Homo sapiens: one gene and its partners. The protein of the gene in region 1 interacts with the protein of each later gene in a biochemical or structural test. Each region holds a gene or a part of one and is shown on either strand. Other genes may lie near its edges.

Region 1 (3,500 bases):
CTCCTTTAATTTTACAGAGGAAAGTAATCTCCTAATATTGTTAAAAGAAAGGGAGAGAAACAGGGTAGCAAAGGGGTACAGACTGAGCAAAAAAGGGGGAAAAAAAAACTAAACGGTTTACAAACCACAGAGCAAAGCAGAGAGCTGCAGAGTGAGTCAGCAGCTGTGTCTGGTGGAAACAGCATCCTGGTGCAAAGCCCTGCAGCCGTCAGCTGATGAACAAGGGCAGTAAATACAGCCGTGAGGGGCCCCACCAGTACCATGTGGCAGTGGTTTGGGGCCACTTTCTCTAGAAGCCAGGGGTGGTGCAGAAGATCCCGTGTGCATGGCCTGGACCCTCTGCAAGGCAGCAGGTGTGTCCAGCAGGTGTGTCCTGAATGGAAGTCTCTGCCCCGAGGCTCAGTGAGGCTCAGGCACCACTTACTGGAGGGGCAGGAAAGCATGGTGGTAGGGAGCACCAACTTTGGAGTTGCCACTGCTTCAGCTGAATCCTGCCTCTGCCCTTTGTGGGACGTTTGGCAACTCTCGCAGCTCTCTCTGCCTCAGTATCGTCATCTGTAAAGTGGGGGTGATGGTAATAGTACTATCTTGCAAGATCATGGTAAGGATGAACTCAGTACTTGAATGGTCTTGTCAGAATTTCTTTGGGCTGAAAATCAGAGTTTAAGGAAAGATAACACTCCTCTCCTATAGCCAGGAAATGCCTAAAGAAAGAGAAATACTGTTCAATTGGCCTATTGAACCATGAAGAAGCTTGAAACGGTGCTATTCTTGGGCTGACTGATATCCTCTGAAAGCTTACTGTGTGCCATGCACCATTCTAAACGCTTTACATGTATTGGTTTATTTAATCCCCACAGGAATCATGTGATTAGTCCATTGGAGAAGTGACGAAATTGGAGCTTAGAGAGGTAGACTGACTTATTTTGCTTAGCGTTGGCAAGGGTTGAAATCCAGACTCTAGGCTGCCATGCTTAATCACTGCGCAAACTTGCTTTCAGGCCTGGTTTATGCACACCTCTGTAGCCTCCTCAGGTCCTTTCCATGTTGTCCCCTCCCTGGGGGACTCCCACTGGAAGACTGCACACTGCCACCTCCTAACAAATGGGAAAACATCCCTAGCCTGGTCTGTCGTTCTGCAAGAGGCAGGATGTATTTTCATGTGCACCATTGAAGAGTATCCAGTTAGCATCAAGGAAGCCTCTGAACATAACCCACCAAAGCTCTTTCATTAGAGGAACCATGTTAGATAGATTCTCAGCTGCTCTGATGGGATGTAAAGGAGCTGTGTTGCTTATAACCGATCCATGATATCAGAATGCAGGGACACACTGTTCTCAGCAGGAAAAGTGATGTCCAAAGTACACATCAAGTGAATATTTGGGATAGAGATGTTGGGATGCTGACATCATCCTGTGCATTCATACTATATGATGCAATCTTTCCACTTAAAATGATGAAAAGGAATTTGTATTGTATGAAGAGCAAAGACAGCAATTTTTAAGTGATGAAAGATTTATTTATCAGAGAATAGAAAAATAGAATCAAACAGGAAGAAGCATTGTCATTAATACAAAGATAAAAGACATTCTGGTTTCAGGGGAAAAGTTCACATGAGCACAACAGACACAAACCTAAAGATAGATGGAGAGAAAGTCAAATTCATCAGAAACTAAATGAAATAAATCTTTATCTTAAAGTCACTTGCCTGCAAATCAAAGATGGGATGTTGCCATTTTCTCCAGGCCCATTAAGAACAGTCTTAATGGTATGAAGCACAGTCCTCCTTCCCCAGGCCTGTGATGAGTTTCCGGTCTCCTTGCTCTGAGCTCAGGTCCCTCTATCTACAAAGGGCATCCCCGGGCTGCTGGGCCCAGGGCATATGCAGTGTTCCCTTGTGAAAGCTGGCACTTTGCTTAGGAGCAAGTGACTCAGGCCCTATTCTACAAACAAGCCAAGCAGTACCTTTGGGCTGTGACAACGTGGTCATGGACATATATGTTTCATTTGGCCAATGTGTGAGTGCAAAGGCCAGTTTGGTCTTCTTTGGTGCAGCTTGACTCTTTCCTCCTCTTCCTTCCTGACCTCAGATTCATCGCCTGCACCTAAGCAGTTATGACCCTGAAAGGAAATCCTTGCTTTCTATTCTCACAGTCCGCATTTTGTAAGACCTCCTCTTCCCTTCATACTTAGTCAGTGGCAGAGTAGGGCAAGAAAACAAAAGTAGACTTTGCAGACAGAGTCAGGTTTCTAACCTGACCTCCCTTATCATTGGCTGTGTGACACAGGAAAAGTTACTTAACTTCTCTGGACTTCTAATTCCTTTTCTGTAGGATGGAGATAGTAACCTCCCAGGGCTGTTATGAGACACAGAAGGGACCACAGACATTCTATGGGGGGCATTCTGCGGGATGGGAGCTGTTTGATTGTTATTTCACATGATTGTATTAACATTCCCAGAGTGTTTCAGCTTCCGTCATTTTCTTTTTTCTAATCTATCCTGAACATTGCTGCCAGATCAGTCTTCCTGAAGCATGACTGATAATAATCATCTCAAAACATAGTCATTATTTTTATTTGAATGGTTATATGGCAGAGTTGCAAATGAAAAGCTGAGCAGAAGGCTGAGAAGAGACCACAGCCTCAGGAGCCTGGGCTACTAGATGAAAGCCAGCATGAGCAAAAAGGGCCTGTGGCTCTGTGTTTGGGACAATGTTGTAACTACCTGTGTCCATCTCTCCACGGACCAAAAGCACCCTGAGCTAAAGGACTATATCTCATTATCCTTGGCATTCATGTATGCAACAAATAATTATTGAGCACCTAGTCTAGGCCCCAGGCTAACTAGTTTTCTTTAGATTTTCAGCTGTGTAAAAAAAATTCATTGAATTCATTAACATTAACCAAAATTTAACTTCAAAAATACAGATGTTCAATAATGATAACATTTCGTGTTTTCAATGTGTAGATTCTCTTGCAGGGATGTACACTGATTAAATCTTAATTATTCCATTTCGAACCTTATTTTGGCCTCAACGTTTAGGAAATACACATTCCATCTTGTGCTTGCAATATGCCTGTAACATCTTGGCATTTGAATTTGCAGTTGGGAATATGCAGCATAGGCTATGAATTTCTGAAGCTGGTGCCAGCACAGCTGGTTCTGATCTGAATACAAACAAATAAAACTATGTGGTTGGCACTGAAACACTAGGACAGGTGACAAACCTTGGCAATGCACTGGTTACAAATGGGCTAATTAAGAATCTGCACTTTCTTCTAGCATCGAAGTTCAGAAACAGACCATCGAAGATGAGCCTGAATTTGAAGTCTTGTGGTTGTATCAAGGCTCTCTTTTAAAAAATACTAGTTATTTTATCTGCTTGTATAATGGGTTGAATTGTGTTCCCTCAATTCCCTATGTTGAAATCTTAACCCGCAGTATCTAAGAATGTGACCTTTTTTGGAGATAAGATCCTAAATGAGGTAATCAAGTTATA
Region 2 (3,500 bases), on another chromosome or scaffold:
CTCTCTTTCATCTATTCTATTACTCCTTCTTCTTTCCTCTCTATTGCTGATCACCTCATTATTAATGTAACCGAGTCAATTTCGCCTCAAACTATTATATTTGATGCTTGCCTTGTTATACCCTGTGGAGACTTGACACGTCGAAGCAGCTCTCCACTCCAAAAAAGTACCTCTGTCCTTCCTGGCTCTGCTCAGACTGGATATTAGTGAATCGGGATCATTTAGTCTGGAAAGGTTTCAATAAAGACCCCAATGTCAACTGGGAGTATTGCCCCCCACACCCCGCCAAGACAGAGCTTTTATGCTGCAGTTGGTCCAATGTTCTGTAGACCAATAAAGAGCACAGATGGACTGCCCCAACCAGTAGTTGTAAACGTTCTGTAGACCACTAAAGAGCACGGATAAACTGCCCCAACCAGTAGCTGTAATTTCCTAAAGCCATACATTCACTTTACTAAAGAAACAGCTTCCCCTAGCTGTGAGCTAAACCAGTACTGTCCAATACAGGTTATTATCTCAAACCCTCCAAGTTCTTCCCCTTCTATAAGCCGGTTCCCTTCTTTAAGCCAGTTTTATGGCATGGGGGCTGAGGTTTCAGGAACAGAACCTATTGGATCCTTTGAAATATGCTGCATTGATCCCCTACTGCCTACACTTTCCCCTAAGCCTTCTTCCAAAACCTCTCACAACAAAACTATTGCTCCTCCTCCATCTAATGAAAAGACCAAGGTAGCTATTGTAGAAGTTAAAGACCTAAAACAAACTTTGGCAACTGAGACAGGATATCAAGATGTGAATGCTCTTAAATTTAAAACTCGAGATCAAATAGCTGCAGGATTTGAGTCAATATTTTTGTGAGTGACAACTAATAAAAACGTAGATTGGATAAATTACATTTATTATAATCAGCAGTGGTTTATAATTACACCACGGATGCTGTCAAAGGGTAACAGAACAATTGGGGCCCACTAGCCAGATGGCCTGAGAAAACAGAATGGCCCTAGATATATTAGCCAAAATAGGGGATGTTTGTGTTATGATTAAAATTCACTGTTGTACCTTTATCCCAAACAACACTGACCCCACTGGGAACATAATAAGCGTCTTACAAAGACTTACCGCTTTATCCAATGAACTAACTAAAAATTCTGGAGTCGATAACCCTTTCTCAACATGGCTAGAGAGGTAGTTCAGTAAATGAAAAGGAATCATAGCCTCAATCCTTCTCTTACAGCCATTATAGGTGTGCTCATTCTTACAGGATGCTGTATCATACCCTGTACTCATAGTTTAGTGCAAAGACTTATAAAAACAGCTCTCACCAAAACCTTCCTCAGCTCTCCTCCACCTTATTCAGATAAACTCTTCCTTCTCCTAGACATGCATTGTGTCATAATGGATAGCCTTTCCCTTCCAGCCTAGACAGCTGGGTTCAATTTCAAACATTAGTCAACTGGGTCACTTTAGATTGTGCGGTCCAACCCTAGCCAGTAGGGGAAAGACACAACAGTGGGGACCAGCTGTGTTAAGAATAAGAACCTCTTCCCCTCCCTTGTCCATCTCACGATTGCTCCATCTGCAAGACACACCCTTCTACAGAAGTAAACTGCCTTGCTGAGAAAACTTTTGCCTGAGTGCTATTTTCACTTTGCAACACTGAACATTCACTTCCAACAATCACATCTCTAATAACTGCTAAGTACAACTAACTTGCTTAAAATAAGTGATACATAATGTACAAGTACTTGACCAGACAGCGAAAGAAGGCAAATACAGGTTGAGAGGCCTTTATACAGAATGCTTGACACCAGACTGGGATTTTTTCAGATTTGCAGATATTTGCCTTTTTACCTACTGGTTGAGCATCCCTAATTCAAAAATCTGAAACATTCCAATGAGCATTTATTTCGAGTGTCATGTTGGCACTCAAAGTTTTAGATTTTGGAGCATTTCTGGTTTCCAGATTACAGATACTCAACCTGTATAAAATATTCATAGCCACTAGATTTCCAAATGTACGGAAATACCATAACAACCAAATCAGCAGTTAGAAGACAAAAATGAGTTCAAAATGGCATCTCAGGAATGACCTCCTTGAGAGCAGGGCATACATCACCTGTACACTAGGTACCACACCCAAGATACTTAAATGTGTACTGAATAAAAGAAAAATAAAGGTAAGGAAAAAAATAAGAATGAGACTGATAATTTCTACTTGGAATGTCATCTATTAATTCCTACTTATAAACCTTCACAACATGGACCTATTTCTCTAGGTTAAAAACAGGTTGGGCAAGGCGGCTCATGCCTGTGATCCCAGCACTTTAGGAGGCCAAGGCAGGAGAATCACTTGCGCCTTGGAGTTCGAGACCAGCCTGGCCAACATGGCGATACCCTGACTCTACTAAAAATACAAAAATTACCTAGGCATGTGGCACGCACCTGTGATTCCAGCTACTTGGAGAACCTGGGAGGATGAGGTTGCAGTAAGTGGAGATTGCACCATTGCACTCCAGCCTGGGTGACAGACACTCTGTCTCAAAACAAACAAACAAACAAACCCCAAAATCCCTAGTACACTGCTATGGTGTAGCATATGTACCAAATCTTTTTTTTTTTTTTTGAGACAGTTTTGCTATTGTTGCCTAGGCTGGAGTGCAATAGCGCGATCTCAGCTCACTGAGACCTCCACCTCCCAGGTTCAAGCAATTCTCCTGCCTCAGCCTCCCAAGTAGCTGAGATGACAGGTGTGCGCCACCATGTCCCGCTAATTTTTGTATTTTTAGTAGAGATGGGGTTTCACCATGTTGGTTAGGCTGGTCTCAAACTTCTGACCTGAAGTGATCCATCCACCTCGGGCTCCCAAAGTGCTGAGATTACAGGCATGAGCCACCGTGCCTAGCCTCAAATCTTTACTATCTATTAATACTACTATTAGTCTTATCATGATATTCAACAAGCCTAATTTAAAAATCAAAGGTTAATCTATTGACTTGTTTCCTCTTTTGATCCACTATCTAATGAATACATTCATTGCACTACACAAGCTGTTTCGTTTATGCATATGTGTGTTAACACTAACTTATTTTGATGTTGCCTTTTTCTCCTAAAGAGCAAACTAAAAGAATAAAGGGCCCTAATTCAGCATTTCTCACAAAATGCTAATTTCATACAATGTGCTACACAAAGCAAAACAAATGCTTTATGTGGGAGATTTATGGGGGAGATGGTCAAATAAGACAGAAATACTAAGTAAAAATTGTAAAAGGCTTCTGCAAGACTTCTCATCACTTTAGTAAATATTATGCCTTGTGAATTTCAAAAGGGGAGCAGGGGATGCCGGTCATTCTTCTCAACTGATGTGGTCCTCCTTAGATCTTTCCACACTAAGTTTGTGAATAGATGAGCTCATATTTAAATGAACTGCTATCTAAAGATAATGAAAATAAACGTATTTGTAGTCTCACTATTAACATTTGTCAAAAATCTAACCACATTGA
Region 3 (3,500 bases), on another chromosome or scaffold:
TTCTTAAATATAAACTGACTAAAAATATGCAAATAGATCATTTCTGACAACAAATGATCAATGCATAAAACTGCTTGGCAACTGGCTGAGCGCGGTGGCTCACGCCTGTAATCCCAGCACTTTGGGAAGTCAAGACAGTTGAATCACTTGAGATCAGGAGTTCAAAGCCGGCCTGGCCAACATGGTGAAACCCTGTCTTCACTAAAAATACAAAAATTAGCCAGACATGGTGGTGGCACGCCTGTAATCCCAGCTACTTGGAAGGCTGAGGCATGAGAATCGCTTGAACCTGGGAGGTGGAGGTTGCAGTGAGCCGAGATCACAGCACTGCACTCTGGCCTGGGCAACAAGAGAATCGCTTGAGTCTGGGAGGCAGAGGTTGCAGTGAGCCAAGATCACGCCACTGCACTCCAGCCCGGACGACACAGTGAAACTCCATCTCAAAAAAAAAAGGCGGGGGTTGGCAACTATGAAAATAAAAAATGAGAGAACATACCAAAATGAGTAACCAGAGGTCAAAAACAATGAAGACTTGAGGCAAAGAAACGTCTATGCTAATAATCTCTTCCAACTTCAATTATGACCAAAATGAACAAATCCTGTTCCAGCCTAATCCCTTCCCAGTTTGGACTCATAGTTCAATACATTCAGATGTGAAGACAAAGAAAAAAGGGATACTGTCTGCTAGTGACTGAGCAAGAAGAGACTAGGACTTCCTATTGGCCACACAAAACTGCCAAAAGCTGGCACTCTTTAACCCATTTAAACCCTTAAATATTCCAATTTCCACACTGTTGTGCACATCAATAGTTTCTGCCTTTTTATTACTGGGTAGTATTCCATTGTACTACAGTGTGTTTATCCATTCTCTAGCTGAAGTACATCGAGCTGTTTGCAGTGATTACAAGTAAGGCTACTGTAAACATTTGTTTAGAGGTTTTTGTGTCAAGACAGGTTTTAATAACACTAAGGCAGGCCGGCACGGTGGCTCACGCCTGTAATCCCAGCACTTTGGGAGGCCGATGTGGATGGATCACCTGAGGTCAGGAGTTCGAGACCAGTCTGGCCAATGTGGTGAAACCCCATCTCTACTAAAAATACAAAAATTAGCTGGGTGTGATGGCGCGCGTCTGTAGTCCCAGCTACTCGGGAGGCTGAGGCAGAAGTATCGCTTGAACCCGGGAGGCGGAGCTTGCAGTGAGCCGACATTGTGCGACTGCACTCCAGCCTGGACAACAGAGCAAGACTCTGTCTCAAAAAAAAAAAAAAAAATTTCCTTCCCATGACTAGCACAATCTAAACCTGAAGTATGATTTCAGAACTATGCTCATACTTAGAGCCAATAATTTTCTGGGTGCTTCCATTGCTTGTAGGCCCCCTAACATCTTGATTGCAGCAGTAATGGGAAGGAGGGAACCAGTTTAGACAGCCACTTTCCCCAATTCCTCCAGACTGTGCGAAACCACAGGACAAAGGTTCTGCAACAAATGAAGTGCAAGGAAAAAGAAAGAGACAGGAGGAACCTATGAACTGAAAAAGATTTAAGAGATAAATCATTAAATCACAATGTACTGTGAAATGAAAAAGATATAAGAGAAACCAACCAATCAAAATGTTATCAGTTTTCTTGGAAGCCTGACTGAAACTGAAAAACAAAGTTTAAAAGAATGGGTAAAACAGAACAGTGACTAGATATTTTATTATTTTAATTTTAGGTGTAATCATGGTATTATCTTTTTAAGTCCCTACACAGAAATACATACTGAAATATTTATGGATAAAGTGGTATGTCTAAGATCTGCTTCAAAATAATGGGAAGAGTAGAAGTGACCAGTGTACAAATTAAACAAAGCTGGCCTAAGCTTGTAACTGTTGAAGCTAGGTGATGAGTATATGAGGGGTTCATTTTACTACTCACGGTAGTTTTTTTTGTTATTTTGTTTTGAGACAAAGTCTCACTCTGTTGCCCAAACTGAAGTGCAGTGGCACGATCTCGGCTCACTGCAACCTCCACCTCCTGGTTCAAGAGATTCTCCTGCCTGAGGCTCCCAAGCAGGTGGGATTACAGGCACGCACCACCAAACCCAGCTAATTTTTTTATTTTTAGTAGAGATAGGGTTTCACCATGTTGATCAAGCTGGTCTCAAACTCCTGACCTCTGGTGATCCATCCACATCAGCCTCCCAAAGTGCTGGGATTACAGGCGTAAGCCACCGTGCCCAGCCTACCCTAGTGTTATTAAAACCTGTCTTCACACACTGTGCCCGGCCTGTTGTTTTGTTTTTCTGAGACAGAGTCCTGCTCTGTTGCCCAGGCTGGAGTATAGCGCCAGCCGCTCTCTACTTTTCTGTATGTTTGCAGTCTCAAGCAATCCTCCTGTCTTGACTTCCCAAAATGCTGGGATTACATGCGTGAGCAACCCCTGGCCTCCTGTATTTTAAAACTCAGACCTACATATCAAGCTCTTGAGAAAAACAATTCATATCACTGATAGCAGAAGGTCACATCTGATAAAACTATTTAACTGCTCCCCACCAATTCTGTCCCTCTGATTTCCCCTCCTGTGCCTTTTCTTCTTTTTTTTTTTTTTTTTTTTTTTTTTGAGACAGAGTTTCACTCAGTCGCCCAGGCTGGAGTGCAGTGGCGTGGCGTGATCTCAGCTCACTGCAACCTTCGCCTCCTGGGTTCAAGCGATTCTCCTGCAACAGCCTCCCGAGGAGCTGGGATCACAGGCTCACGCCACCATGCCCGGTTAATTTTTTTGTACTTTTAGTAGAGAGGGGGTTTCACCACGTTGGCCAGGCTGGTCTGGAACTCCTAACCTTGGGTGATCTGCCCACCTCAGCCTCCCAAAGTGCTGGGATTATAGGTGTGAGACACCATGCCCAGCCCTTTTCTTCTTTCTAAGCCTTAGATCCTGCTAAACCCAACTTGTAGCACTTCTTCCTCCTTGATTTTTATTTTTCATTTTTCGTCTGAATTATTTTCAGTGTTCTAATCACTGCTCATTACATGTTACACAGATACTGCCCTCAGATGTTAATGTCTCACCTACACCTTTCAGTCTGGTCCCTAAGTGATATCTACTCTCCTTCAGCCAGATATAACCGGTGAACAACTATTTCCAAAATACAAGGCTTCTAAAAGACATCACAGAAAAACAGGAAGTATATTCTGAATCCCAACCCTCAGCTTTTTCATTAAACAAAACTCCAATAGGACAACTAACTATAATATAAATCATTTTACTGAACACTACAAACAATACTGATAAATTGATTCCTAAATGATTAATTCTATTAAAAAAAATTTCAAGGCCAGGCATCGTGGCTCACACCTGTAATCCTAGCACGGTGGGAGGCCAAGGCAGGACTGCTTGAGCCCAGGAGTTCGAGATCAGCCTGGGTAACATAGCGAGACCCCATCTCTAAAAAAAAATTGTAAAAATTAGCCAGGCATGGTAGCACACGCCTGTAGTTGTAGCTACTCAGGAGGCTGAA
Region 4 (3,500 bases), on another chromosome or scaffold:
ACAGCCTTTTTTAATCGCTGTTGAAGAAACCTAGTATTTGAAAGATAAAAATAAAATAATAAACTGCTTAAAAGTATACTTGAGATTTAGGTGAGTTCTTTTACATGTCACACTATTCTAAAATATAGTATCCAGAAGAGTGCATATCTCATATAACTAATAATGTACATGTCTTTCAGAGTACTGTTAATGCATATATTTTGCTAGAGATTTTAGGGTAGTTGATAATGTTTGGTAAAATCACCAAAGAAAACATGTTACACTATCACCAGAAATAATCAAAAGGCCAAAATATGTTTGCAATACTAATTAGAATACGATATGCAATATATATATACCTCTATATATACACACATATACATACATGTATACATATTCTAATGTCTTTAAATAGTATGAAAAACCCTACAAATTATACGCCAGGTGCGGTGGCTCGCACCTGTAATCCCTGCATTTTGGGAGGCCGAGGTGGGCGGATCATGAGGTCAGGAGTTTGAGACCAGCCTGGCCAATATAGTGAAACCCCGTCTCTATTAAAAATCCAAAAAGTAGCCGGGAACAGTGGCAGGTGCCTGTAATTCCAGCTACTTGGGAGGTTGAGGCAGGAGAATCGCCTGAAGCCAAGAGGCAGAGGTTGCAGTGAGCCAAGATCAGGCCACTGCACTCCAGCCTGGGTGACAAGAGTGAAACTCAGTCTCAAAAAAAAAAAAAAAAAGAAAAGAAAAGAAAAGAAAAACCCTATAAATTATAAAGTTCAAAATTTCACAAAGTCCATATGACATAGAAACAAGGTAGAGATATATGTATACTGTTAAAGCTTGATAATAGGGTCATATTAGTTACATTATATATGTGTGTGTATATATTCATATATGGTATATATGATGTATAGCTATATATTCATGTATATCACATATGCATATAATAGTATATATGGATAGTGAGATCACATAACATCATAAATAAATATAAACTATTATACTATCAGCAGATGTTAGCTTTCATTCCTAATGATCTTAATGTAAAACCTGAATGAAATAGAAGTGTTTAGGTAGCTAAAAAACCACCTTTAAACTAATAGTAGAGTCAAAGTGTTATCAAAAATATAATGGATAGAGAAAGATATATTTTGAAATATGTTAAAATGTTGCCACAGTTTCAAATTAGAGAAAAAGACTAAATCATAAGTGAATTTTACATCAGAGTAGTGATCAATTCATTCCTGTAACTAATAAGAATCTGACCAACATTCCTGATGATATGACCAAAAAGCAACATTACCTTTCTTGATTTATTTCTTAAGAATGCACCACTATTTGAAAAAATGTCTTTCTTCAAAAAGCAAATGATGCCTACAATTTCTAATCTGCTCTAGGTCTTTCTGTCTTTTCTGAAAATGTTAAACATGTTTAAAAATATTTAGTTATATATTAAATTAAATATTAAATATTAAAAATATTTAGTTAGATAATACAGTATAATACACTGAAAGCTAGTTCTACTAAATGTTTAGTAAGAACTGAACCAATTTTTATATGACCATCTTTTCCAGTTTCAAGAGAGAAAAATAATTGGGTAGGATGAAGGGTAGCCACAATTAGCACAAAAGATAACAAACTCCTTTAAAATGAAATCAAGCTCAGGAGTTCAGAAAACAAAATCCTTCCTCATAAAAACAGATGAAGTTAAATATAAATTTAAGAGATTTTAGGCAGAAGAGAATGAGTAAGTATAAATCACTGGTAATTAAACAACTATTAATTGTATGCCAGGCACTGTGTTGGGTGCCAAGATTTGAATAGTGAGTGAACACAGCCATGGTCTCTGCCTTGGTGGATATTACAGTCAAGTTGAGAGGTGATGACAGAGCTGAGGTCTGCAACGTTAATACAGTAACTGTGGAAAAGGGAGCAAAGGATTTTATGAGAAAGTAATAAGACCGATGTGCTGAAAGGGAACAAAAAGGAGGATAAAATCCATTACCAAAGATATTTAAAGTGCTTAAAGTGTAAAGACCAGAAACAGTGATACTTGAGAAGTTTTGGTGCTTTCAAAACTGATCAAGGTGAGTAGATTACTCATCCTAATGGGCAAAATAGAAGTTAGTAATTTCACATGATGTCAGTAGCTATAATGCTTTAAGATGTAAGAGGCATATGTTAACTAGTTGCTATATGAAATACAGTGTGAGAAGTTATTATACTGTGCTGTATTTCTTTAGATTGTGTAATTGGTAACCAGAGACCAAATAGCAATACTTATTTTCTTTTAGAGTCTACTCCACTGAAAAGAAACAGAAGGAGGAGAAGCCGCTCTCAACATTAGTCTGGCTAAGAAGAATGAGAAATCTCTACAGTGGCACCACAGAAACACATTCATTAAATGAAAGGCAAATGACACACAGCATATTAATGCCAAATATTACTATTTATTTTTCCCTAAATAGTAACAATATATGTCCATCAAAGTCACAGAGAGTAGAAAATCTGAAATAAATTTAGTAAAACCAAATAGAAAAAAATTATCTAACCTTATGATGTCTTTGGCTTTACATCCTATATGTTTAAAATCAAAGTTAAGATGCAGTTCATCCAAAGGAAGATCCCATATTTTGCTTAATTTCCCCATTTCATTGGGAAAGGATCTTAGTTCCAAGTTGTAACTGACATCCAGAGATGTCAGATTTTCAAGACAGCCAATCTCAGGAGGAATCTTAATGGGAAAAAAAAGGGCAAAACCTGTTGGTGGGAAGGAAGAAATGTGCTCTGCCAAAAAACGTGATAAGAAACAAGAAAGGCTCACAGATTCCATCAGCAGCTTGCACAACCTTTCAACAGAGTTTTAAAACTTTCCAAAGGTTTGTCATAAGTTGTCAGTATGTGTTTAAAAACATAAAAACTTACATATAAAAACTTACTCCCAAACAATCTATGTCACTCATCTGTAATATTAAAAAACCCAATCTCCTTTGGTAACATACTTCATCTCTTCAAGACATTGAAAGTAAGGAAGTTCTTACCACAAAATGGATTTGGTTATCCATTATCTGTGACTTCATTCTGCTCCTTCAGTAAAGGCAAGAAGACCTAGTCACTACAAACCTGCATGCAATTTAGTGTTCTCAAAGTACAGCTACATGCTTATACTTTAGGTGGCATCCTAATTGGAGTAATTTCTTTTCTGTTCCAAATTTTTAAGCAATATATACTATATTTATAATAGAAAACACTCATTTGCTGGCAAAAAATCAGGTAGCAAAATATATGCACAGTTTTGCTGAACCTCACAGTGTCAGACACTTAATTCTTTTGGTTTTTGTAGGCAATACGCTAGAACTTGAAAAATAATATTTTCTGAGACAAACAAATTATCAATTTCAGATTTACAACAGAGAGAATGGAGCAAAACAAAAAAGGTTGATCCATTAGGGTGATAGCATGGTGGCGGAATGCAGAAATTTAAGAATGTACCAAGGAAAGCTGAAAAACAAGTAATACAGT

What was found.
Region 2: the proteins of ERG (region 1) and PRPF40A form a complex in vitro, tested with the Homo sapiens proteins (one large-scale study listed by BioGRID).
Region 3: the proteins of ERG (region 1) and SF3B1 form a complex in vitro, tested with the Homo sapiens proteins (one large-scale study listed by BioGRID).
Region 4: the proteins of ERG (region 1) and LRRK2 interact on a protein array, tested with the Homo sapiens proteins (one large-scale study listed by IntAct).

What each region holds. Positions count from the first base shown.
Region 1 is NC_000021.9:38,386,978-38,390,477, forward strand, and holds part of ERG (transcriptional regulator ERG), read right to left. Parts: intron 1-3,500. UniProt on the Homo sapiens protein: Transcriptional regulator. May participate in transcriptional regulation through the recruitment of SETDB1 histone methyltransferase and subsequent modification of local chromatin structure.
Region 2 is NC_000002.12:152,707,462-152,710,961, forward strand, and holds part of PRPF40A (pre-mRNA-processing factor 40 homolog A), read right to left. Parts: intron 1-3,500.
Region 3 is NC_000002.12:197,428,529-197,432,028, forward strand, and holds part of SF3B1 (splicing factor 3B subunit 1), read right to left. Parts: intron 1-3,500. UniProt on the Homo sapiens protein: Component of the 17S U2 SnRNP complex of the spliceosome, a large ribonucleoprotein complex that removes introns from transcribed pre-mRNAs.
Region 4 is NC_000012.12:40,304,997-40,308,496, reverse strand, and holds part of LRRK2 (leucine-rich repeat serine/threonine-protein kinase 2), read right to left. Parts: intron 2,713-3,500; coding exon 2,531-2,712; intron 31-2,530; coding exon 1-30. UniProt on the Homo sapiens protein: Serine/threonine-protein kinase which phosphorylates a broad range of proteins involved in multiple processes such as neuronal plasticity, innate immunity, autophagy, and vesicle trafficking.